Linked DNA regions of Homo sapiens: region 2 is linked to region 1. Evidence: fine-mapped expression QTL. Tissue or cell type: whole blood. Region 1 holds a variant in brackets; the other region holds the start of a gene. All regions are shown on one strand. Distances are between the middles of the regions.

The links. PIP is the estimated chance that this variant, and not a neighbour inherited with it, causes the effect.
Region 2: it holds the start of MYBL2, and the variant in region 1 is the best candidate, but not a certain one, in a credible set for the expression of MYBL2 in whole blood (TOPMed, PIP 0.85).

The regions. Positions count from the first base shown.
Region 1 is chr20:43,711,067-43,716,325 of GRCh38, forward strand. MYBL2 (MYB proto-oncogene like 2) reads left to right here. Exons shown (of 14, transcript NM_002466.4): 11 at 422-535; 12 at 1,936-2,040; 13 at 4,068-4,217; 14 at 4,893-5,259. The coding sequence ends at 5,021. Among named protein-coding and RNA genes, the nearest start is that of GTSF1L, 13 kb to the right of the region's middle. RefSeq lists an enhancer at 16-85. The variant A/G (reference allele first, on the strand shown) is at 2,347.
Region 2 is chr20:43,664,279-43,669,278 of GRCh38, forward strand. It overlaps MYBL2 (MYB proto-oncogene like 2), which reads left to right and starts at 2,836. Exons shown (of 14, transcript NM_002466.4): 1 at 2,836-3,025. The coding sequence starts at 3,006. RefSeq lists silencers at 2,631-2,925, 2,662-3,041 and enhancers at 2,631-2,925, 3,692-3,741.

The DNA.
Region 1 (5,259 bases):
AAAGGGAAATGGGTTTGAGAGCCCCCATTAGTGTGGAACAAAGGGTTGAGTGAGCCTGGGCTTTGAGCTGTCGGGGTCCTAATTCAGCAGCTGTGTGACTGTGTGCCAGGCTGTTGATCTCTGAGCTTCTGTTTCTACCTGCTTAAAATGACGGTTACTGCACAGGGCTGTGTGAGGGTTACAGTGCGTCTCTGGGCTGCTCCCAGCCATGGCAGGCCCCTGGGAATCAAGGTCATCAGCTGCTTGTCCAAGGCAGCAGTTAGTGGTTGTGAATGGTGCGTGTGAGATCTGCATCCTGGCGTCAGGCCTCCTTCCTGCCTTACCCAGGACAGCCCAGTTGCAGCTGGGTTGGTCCCACAGTCCCACACACACACAGCCCGAGTGTGGTGCCTCACGTGGGCTGCCCCGTGCCTACCCACAGCCACAGACCCCGCACCTGGAGGAGGACTTGAAGGAGGTGCTGCGTTCTGAGGCTGGCATCGAACTCATCATCGAGGACGACATCAGGCCCGAGAAGCAGAAGAGGAAGCCTGGGGTGAGTAGGGTAGGGGTGGGAGAGCCTGGGCAGGGGGAATTGGAGCCGTGGCATGGGGGAGGCGTCTGGGGACAGGTTGTAGAAAGTGAGGCGCTGGGGAGAATGGGGGCGTAGCATATCCCCTTTGCCCCCTTTCGCACGGTGGTTGTTGAGGAAACTGACAAGATAAGGACAGTGTCTCTGGGACCCTCCTCTGCTCTGCTTTGAAGGATTCACTTACTTATCCAGCATTGTGTTCGGACCCTGCTCAAGTTGGGCTGGGCTGGATGTGGTGGATGGAGCAGCAATTACGACCCAGACTGGATCTCCCCTTAGTGTTCAGGGGGCAGAGACAGATGCTAGACAGACACACCATGACTGAATTCACAGGGTACCAAGGGCCGCAGAAAGGGAGGTTCCAAAGGAATCTTTTGGGTGGAGGCGAGGCGGTCGGGATGAGCCAGCCAGGCCAGGCAGTGCCTGGCTGAGTGTCAAGCTGCATGAGCTGGGGGTGGGGGAGTGGGTTCAGGTGAGGTGGAGTCTGCAGGGGCTCCTGGGCAGGGGGGCAGGGAAGGGACTGTCCCAAGCCTCCGTTCTATGCCAGCCTCCCTCCCACTGCGTCGTTAGCTTTCATGACAGTGCGCGATCCCTTCGAGTCTCCTAGTGCTCCTTTTTCCCAGACTGCTCTCCTCAAGGGAGAGCTGGGAACGGTGGGATGTACAGGGTGTTAGGTAAGGAGGGGAGGTGGGCGGTCAGCCTGGGCGGGACTTGCCCGAGCTGGCACCCCATGTGCACGTGGAGAGAACTTGGCCTCTGGCCTCCAGGGTCCTCCCTGGCCTCTCCTTGGTGGGGATGGTTGTGAGCCATGGCAGCCCCTGCTGAGTGCACTGTTGGGTAGAGTGGGGATGTGACTCTCAGAGCCGCTCCCTGGTATCGGAGCAGGCCCTGGACCTGCTTCTGTGAGGTGCACGGTTAGGAATGGGGCGTTCCTTGATTGTATTAGGCATTGTAGAGGGGCTTGTCCTGAGGGGTTTGTGTTCCCATATTACTGGCCTGTGGGTGCTATTTTAGGTGTTACTGGGGTGATTCTCTGCTGGGCCTGTTTGAGGGGCTGTGTCTGGTCCATTCGGGGTGAGAACAGGTCACTTCGTGGTGGAGGTTCATGCTGTGTTCCTGCTCACTGTCGCAGCACCTGGCAGGATAGGGTCTACCTTGGGTACAGAGTCTAATGGGGCCATGGGGCCTAACTTTCCCAGCCACCCCATTCTTCTGACAGCAGATTCCCACTAGCTGGGCCTTGCTCCAAGTCTGCACTGCAGCAGGGCCTGGTTTTGTGACCATCCATGGCCATGACCATCCAGGTGCTGACCATGGGGAATCCAGACACTCACCCTAACCCCCTTCTATCTGCCAACCCCTAGCTGCGGCGGAGCCCCATCAAGAAAGTCCGGAAGTCTCTGGCTCTTGACATTGTGGATGAGGATGTGAAGCTGATGATGTCCACACTGCCCAAGTCTCTATCCTTGGTAAGGCTTCTGCTCCTTGGAACTGTTGAGTTTTGGAGAGGACCCTCAAGGTGGAGTTAGTGTAGTGACTCTCCAACTGGGCTTCTGGAACCCTGGGCTCTGCAGGGAGGGGCTATCAGGGAGGGTGGGTCCGGGCACCCACTCATGGCTTCAGTCAGCAGCTCTGCTTGTCTCTCACAGAAGGTTTTGTTTGGCAGAGTTGCGCGGCTAGGACATGTTTTAAAAACATGCATCTGGGTCTCCTGCGCTCTCCCAGAGAGGGTCAGTGATGTGTCTTTTTTTTTCTTTTTTTTTTTTTGAATTGGA[A/G]TTTCGCTCTTGTTGCCCAGGCTGGAGTGCAATGGTGCCATCTCGGCTCACTGCAACCTCCGTCTCCCGAGTTCAAGTTGTTCTCCTGCCTCAGCCTCCCAAGTAGCTGGGATTACAGGCATGCATCACCACGCCCGGCTAATTTTGTATCTTTAGTAGAGACGGGGTTTCTCCATGTTGGTCAGGCTGGTCTCGAACTCCCCACCTCAGGTGATCTGCCTGCCTCGGCCTCCCAGAGTGCTGGGATTACAGGCGTGAGTCACCGTGCCCAGCCTAGTAATGTGTCTTAAGGTATAGCCAGGCACTTGGGCACATTAGTCCTGGGATGGGTGCTATACAGCCCCCAGGCCAGTGGACTTGCTGTGCCGGGTGCTACAGTGAGGTCGACCTCAGAAAGGGGGTTGTTGCCTGTGCAGAGCCTGGGTCCCCAGAAGCCAGGGTGTGCTGCTGATCCCTCTCTGCTCACAATGGGGTGAGTTGGCTTGCCCTGGCTCAGAGTGGGGAGGCGGTGAGAGGCATGGCGGCGTCATGAACAAAGGTTAAGGGTTGCCTGATCTTCCAAGTAGACTGCTGCCCTCACGGTCCTTGCAGAGAAACCTTGTCCTGGCTAGGGGTCTCTGACAGGCTGGGGACCTGCAGCCAGGTTACTGCAAAGAAAAAAACATCACCGCAGGGAGTGAAGAGCACAGATTGAGTCAGGTGGGCCTGGGTTTGAGTTATGACACCATCACTGCTCTCTGGGATCTTTCAGGTTCCCTGAGCCCCAGTTAAAAGCCTATAAAAGGGGTGCCAAGCCTAAGTCAGGAGGGCACAGTGCCAAGCAGAGCAGAGAGACTGGAAGGGCGTGGGAGGGGCTTTGTGCAACTCCGCTGTGCTTGGGGTTGAAGCTGCGTCTTTATGATGCTTGTGGATGTTTCTGGTCCCAGGAAAACTAGGAACAGCCTTGGCTCCTCCTGAGGCTTTATGTGACAAAGCCAACGTTATTGAGTATGTTATTACTGGATAATGCTCAGTGATACTCCACATTTATTGATTATGTTATTATGGCCTGGGGGCTGCACGGCACCCATCCCAGGGCTGATGTGCCCCCACGTACTTGACTGTGCCTCCAGACACACCACTGAATCAGGCTCTGAAACGCACACACGTTTCTTTACTTGATTACTTGATTTTTTTTTTTTAAGTAAGAAAGTTCTTTAGAACAAGATTAAGTTCTTTGCTTAATTTTTTTTTGAGACGGAGTCTGGCTCTGTCTCCCAGGCTGGAATGCAGTGGTGCAATCTCGGCTCACTGCAAGCTCCACCTCCTCCCAGGTTCGCACCATTCTTCTGCCTCAGCCTCCCAAGTAGCTGGGACAACAGGCGCCCACCACCACACCCAGCTAATTTTTGTGTTTTTAGTAGAGACGGGGTTTCACCCTGTTGACCAGGATGGTCTCGATCTCTTGACCTCGTGATCCGCCTGCCTCGGCCTCCCAAAGTGCTGGGATTACAGGCGTGAGCCACCGCTCCTGGCCCTTTGCTTAATCTTTTAAGTATAAAGTAAGCTTAAGCTCATGTAAACTCCCTATCTGAAAGCAGAAACTGAGGCTTGGAAAAGTGTGTATCCTCTTTCAGGTCTCAGCAGCCAGGTGGTGGTGCTGGGGTGGGATTGCGGGTTTTTTTCTTCCCTCTCACAGCTTCTCGCAAAATGGTGACTCCTTGACTTGGTTTTGGTTTCAGCCGACAACTGCCCCTTCAAACTCTTCCAGCCTCACCCTGTCAGGTATCAAAGAAGACAACAGCTTGCTCAACCAGGGCTTCTTGCAGGCCAAGCCCGAGAAGGCAGCAGTGGCCCAGAAGCCCCGAAGCCACTTCACGACACCTGCCCCTGTGAGTGCTGTGGCCATCTCTGGGGGTCCTGCAGTGCCCGCCTTCTTAGCTCAGGGCTGAGTGCTGGCCATCCCTGGGGGTCCTGCAGTGCCCGCCTTCTTAGCTCAGGGCCTTTGCATAGGCTGTTCCTCTGCCTGGGTGCTTTTCCTGCTACTTCCCGTGGCTGCATTTGCTTAACTTACTCTTCTGATTTCAGTCTCAATGCTGCTTCCTTAGGGGTAAGCCTTCTCTGACCCTACATTCTGTAGAGATACCCCCATTCTGCCATTCTCTCTTTTGTGGCCTGGGTTTCACTTGTAACTAAGTCATTATCCCTGTATTTGGTTTGCTTAGTACATGTCTGTCCTCAAGCAGGGGCTGGCTTCAGGCTGCTGACCCGTCTCACTGCTCCTTCTCACCCGCCTCCTGGCTGTGGCTTCTCCTCGAGGCTGGTGCTGCACGGGGCGGGCAGTGCATGGCCATGTCTCCTTGTCCAGCGTCCTACTTACAGTTGAGGAAGCCCACAGCCAGGAAGTGACTTGTCCAGGGTCACAGGGAATGTGGAGAGAGAATAAGAAGGCTCTGGCTTCTAGGGGAGGGAGGCTTATAACTCTACCCTTCCCTGGCCAGGATCACCAGGGTCTGTTGGGAACACATAGTCCCTGCCTGGATGGTAACCCTCTTGCCTCCTCCCAGATGTCCAGTGCCTGGAAGACGGTGGCCTGCGGGGGGACCAGGGACCAGCTTTTCATGCAGGAGAAAGCCCGGCAGCTCCTGGGCCGCCTGAAGCCCAGCCACACATCTCGGACCCTCATCTTGTCCTGAGGTGTTGAGGGTGTCACGAGCCCATTCTCATGTTTACAGGGGTTGTGGGGGCAGAGGGGGTCTGTGAATCTGAGAGTCATTCAGGTGACCTCCTGCAGGGAGCCTTCTGCCACCAGCCCCTCCCCAGACTCTCAGGTGGAGGCAACAGGGCCATGTGCTGCCCTGTTGCCGAGCCCAGCTGTGGGCGGCTCCTGGTGCTAACAACAAAGTTCCACTTCCAGGTCTGCCTGGTTCCCTC
Region 2 (5,000 bases), 47 kb before region 1:
CAAAGTATAGTGATTAAGAGCATAGACTCTAGAACTAGACAGGCCAGGTTTGAATCCCTGCTCTGCCATTTACTAGCACTGTGACCTTGGGGAAGTCTGTGCCTCAGTTTTCCCATCTGCTAAAAGAGGATAATCCCAGTATCTACCTCATAGAGTTGTTACAAGGATTAAATGAGTTACAATTTATAAACAGAATGCTGGCTGGAAATATTAGCTGGGCATGGCGGCGTGCTCCTGTAACCCCAGTTACTTGGGAGGCTGATAGTTTAAAAACTATCTAAAATTTTGATAAATCCCATTTTTCCAGGTGAGAAAACTGAGGCACAGAAGAGTTAGGTAATTGGCTGGGCATGATGGCTCATGCCTGTAATCCCAGCACTTTGGGAGTCTGAGTCGGGTAGATCACCTGAGGTCAGAAGTTCAAGACCAGCCTGGCCAACATGATGAAAACCCATCTCTACAAAAATACAAAAAATAGCCAGGCATGCTGGCGCATTCCTGTAGTCCTAGCTACTCGAGAGGCTGAGGTGGGAGAATCATTTGAATCCGGGAAGTGGGGGTTGCAGTGAGCCAAGATCACACCACTGCACTCCAGTCTGGGCAATAAAGCAAGACTTGGTCTAAAAAAAAAAAAAAAGTTAAGTAATTTGCCTAAGATACCGCAACTGAATGGTGGAGCTGGGACTCAAACCCCAGGAAGTTTGGCTGTGGAGGCTGTGCTTTCAATGAAGTGGGCATGTCCACATTAATTACTTTATAAGGGGAGTGGGCGGGAGAAACCCTGAATTAAGTGATGTGGAAGCTTCTAGCACTTAAGATGTGAGTTAGTCTTCCTTCTGTGGTAAGTGAAGTTTGCAGCAGCTGGTGGCTGGACTGTCCCCAGGTGGCCAGCAGCTTCTGGAAGGGGGCTCTGAGGCCTGAACAGGGGCTAAAAGGCTGGGGTTTGATTTGGTTTCTTCAGCGTCCTGTCTCAGAGCTCATTTATCTTCCTCTCAGCACTGCTCCCAGGAAGTCCAGTGTGACTTGATCCTTGGTACTTGGTAAATGTCAATCTAATATAGAAAACCTTTGCTAAATCTCAAGGAAAGACAGTCTCACTGTCTGTCGCCCAGGCTGGAGTGCAGTGGCGGGATGACAAGGGCTTGAGCCCCTCGAACTCCTGGGCTCAAGCAATCCTCCTGCCTCTGCTTCCCAAGTAGCTGGGATTACAGGCATTCACCACCACAGCCAGGTAATTTCTTAATTTTTTGTAAAGACAGGGTCTCACTCTGATCCCCAGGCTGGTCTCAAACTTTTGGACTGAATCAGTTCTCCCACCTCGGCCTCCCAAACTGCTAGGATTACTGGCATGAGCCACTAAATCTGGGCTAATCTCTGGGAGTTTAAACCCAAGGTAAACAATTCAATGCAACAAACCTTTGCCTGGGGCTTCTTATGTCAGGTCTTCTACTGGGCCCTGGAGATACTGGTGTGCATTGAGAGGCCACCTGGACCTCAGGATGCTCCCAGTTCAAAGGGGGAAATGCAGAAGTCTACAGGCAGATTGTGGGCAGTGGACCCCAAATTAAATAGGAATCAGCCACGTGGGAGGGGCAGGAAGTGTTCCTGCCCTGGGTAATGGCTCAGGCAAAGGCAAAGAGGCCGTTTCTTTTGGCCAGGGCTGGGTGGTGGTCTGGAAGATCAGATAAATGTGATTGTGGAGTAAGGAATTTACCCTGAGGGAGAGGAGGATGGTTTTAAATTCTGGAAAGAGCTCACGCCTGCAATCCCAGCACTTTGGGAGGACAAAGCGGCAGGATCTCTTGAGCCCAGGAGTTTCTAGACCAGTCTAGGCAACAGCAACATAGCAAGACACCCCCTTCTCTTAAAAAAAAAAAAAAAAGCGCAGTGGCTCACTCCTGTAATTCCAGCACTTTGGGAGGCCGAGGCGGGCGGATCACGAGGTCAGGAGACCTATACCATCCTGGCCAACATGGTGAAACCTCGTCTCTACTAAAATACTAAAAAAAAAAAAAAAAAAAAAAAAAAATTGCCGGGCGTGGTGGTGTGCGCCTGTAGTTCCAGCTACTTGGGAGGCTGAGGCGGGGGAGTCGCTTGAACCCGGGAGGTGGAGGTTGCAGTGAGTCAAGATCGCGCCACTGCACTCCAGCCTGGCGACAAAGCGAGACACCGTCTCAAAAAAAAAAAAAAAAAAAATCAGCCGGGTGTAGTGGCGAGTGCCTGGTCTTAGCTACCCGTGAGTTGAGGTAGGAGGATCGCTTGAGCCTAGGAGGTGGAGGTTGCAGTGAGCTATGATCGCGAAACTGCACTCCAGCCTGGGCGACAGAGCAAGACCCTGCCTCTAAGAAAAATGAACAACAAAAAATAAAGTCTATTAAGGAGGGTCTCTTGGAGGCAGGAGAGGAAGCAGGGAGAGGCACAGGTAGGGTGAGGAGCCGCTTTAGGGTGCGGCTCTAGGGACCCAGTAGTGGCTTGGACTAGCGTGGGGGATTCCGCCCTGGCGCTTTCCCTGGCTGGCTCTCCCATGCTCGCGCCTCGCTCCCCTTCCTCGGTCTTCGCTATGTGGGATACTCCTGGGCCGCCCCGGACTGACACGTGAGCCAGGCCTCGGTCACATCCCGGCCCGCTCCACAACTCCGAAGTAGCGGCCGCCGCCCCTGTCCTGCAGCCGGCCCTGGAGGGTCTGGGCAGGTGCCGCCCCGCAGGCCCCGCCCCGCCCCGCCCCCTGGCTCCGCCCCTCACTCAGGCCCCTCCCCCGGCGCCCGCGCGCCAGGACTGGGCGGCGCCGACGCGCTTGGCGGGAGATAGAAAAGTGCTTCAACCCGCGCCGGCGGCGACTGCAGTTCCTGCGAGCGAGGAGCGCGGGACCTGCTGACACGCTGACGCCTTCGAGCGCGGCCCGGGGCCCGGAGCGGCCGGAGCAGCCCGGGTCCTGACCCCGGCCCGGCTCCCGCTCCGGGCTCTGCCGGCGGGCGGGCGAGCGCGGCGCGGTCCGGGCCGGGGGGATGTCTCGGCGGACGCGCTGGTGAGACGAGCCGGGAGGGCTTGGGCCCCTCCCCCTCCCTTTAACTCACCCCTCCCCCACCCAGATACCCCCGACCCTCCCCAGGCTCCCACCAAGCTGGGGTGTGTGTGTGTGTTGGGGGTGGGGTGTTTCCGCGGAAATGCTGCGTCCTGGGCCCTCTGAGGCAGGGGCGCGCGTAAAGCTGGGGGGCTCTTGGGCGTCCCTCGCGGCTCCCCAGGCCTGTTGGGCCTCGGAGCTGGGACGGGCGGGTCTCTTGGGACCCGGGCCAAGCCGTGCATGATGTCATTTTGTCTCCCGCCTAATTGCGGGATGGGGGTGGGCCGGCCGGTGTCAGCTGGCAGGGCCTTCGCCGGCGAGGGAGGCGACCCCTGGGAGCGAGAGGGAGTCTTCAAGTCCCAGCCAGTGGGAGACCGAGCCTGGGAGGCACTTGTTGCAGCCTAGTTTTGGGTCAACTTGGTGGGTGGGCTTTGCTCCTTAACATTCCGGGGAGCACAGAGTCCCCCAAGCCCTCTCCCCTGGACTGAGAAGGGTGCTGAGTTGGGGGCTCTTTTGTCTCTCCCACCTGGGTTCCGCGCCCCAGCTTGGTTCGGTTTGAGACCTCTCTTCCTGTTCCCACGAGGAGTTTTGGGCAGCTGGGGTTGAAGGTGCGGGGGAGAGAGAGAGTCCCTGGGGCAAAGGCAGGAACTGCGGTCTCCATTTTACTTATTTCCCCAGAGACTTAAGTGGCAGAGCTGAGCCCGGAGCCAGGTCTGTGGCTCCAGATCCCTGTCTTACACCTGTGCGCCTGGGGCCTGAGCTCCAAGCTTTTCAGCCTGCCTGGGAGACAGGACAGTGGGGTCCTGACCTCTTCCCTGCCTGGATCGCTGCAGCTCAGATAACCTTCGTTCCCTCTTTTTTTTTTTTTTTTTTTTTTTTGAGAAGGAGTCTCGCTCTGATGCCCAGGCTGGAGTGCAGTGGCGCGATCTTGGCTCACTGCAACCTCCGCCTCCCAGGTTCAAGCGATTCTCCTGCCTCAGCTTCCCGAGTAGCTGGGACTTCAGGCACGTGTCACCACGTCGGGCTAATTTTTTGTATGTTTAGTAGAGACAGGGTTTCACCATGTTAGCCAGGATGGTCTCGATCTCCTGACCTTGTGTTCCGCCCGACTCGGCCTCCCAAAGTGCTGGGATTACAGGCGTGAGCCACCTTGCCCGGCCAAACTTCGGTCCCTCTTTAGACGATAGCCTCATCTAAAGATGAAGCCTTCCATCCCTCTAGATTTTTGCCCTTTCAGGCTGAGGATAGGGATCTGAGCACAGGGACTGTGTTCCTCAGGCCCCACTTTCCCAGGCCAATGTCCAGGAAGAGTTTTCTGTTCAGGCGCCTATCAGACCCTGCCCTGGTTTTTTTTTTTTTTTTTTTTGAGGCAGGGTCTCCGTCTGCAGTCCAGGCCGGAGTGCTGTGGTGCTGTCATAGCTCACTGTAGCCCCAACCTCCCAGGTTCAAGTGATCTTCCCAACTCAGCCCGCTGGGACTGCAGGCTGAGTAGCTGGGACTATGGGCACGGGCCGCCACAACTGGCTAATTTATTTAATTATTTAGGAGACAGAGCCACTCTGTGTTGCCCAGGCTGGAGTGCAGTGGCACAATCTCGGCTCACTGCAGCCTCTGCCTCCCGGGTTCAAGGAATTCTGTCTCAGCCTCCCAAGTACCTGGGACTATGGGCACACGCCGCCACGCCTGGCTAATTTTTTGGATTTTTAGTAGAGATGGGTTTCACTGTGTTGCTCAGGCAATCCGCCTGCCTTGGCCTCACAGAGTGCTAGGATTACAGGCGTGAGCCACCGCGTCTGGCGTGTTTTATTTTGTGTAGAGATGGAAGGGGGCGGGAGTGGCCTCGCGTTGTGTCTCACCTCACTATGTTACCCAGGCTGGTCTCGAACTCCTGGCTTCCAGGGATTCTCCCCCACTTGGCCTCCCAAAGTGTCGGGATTAC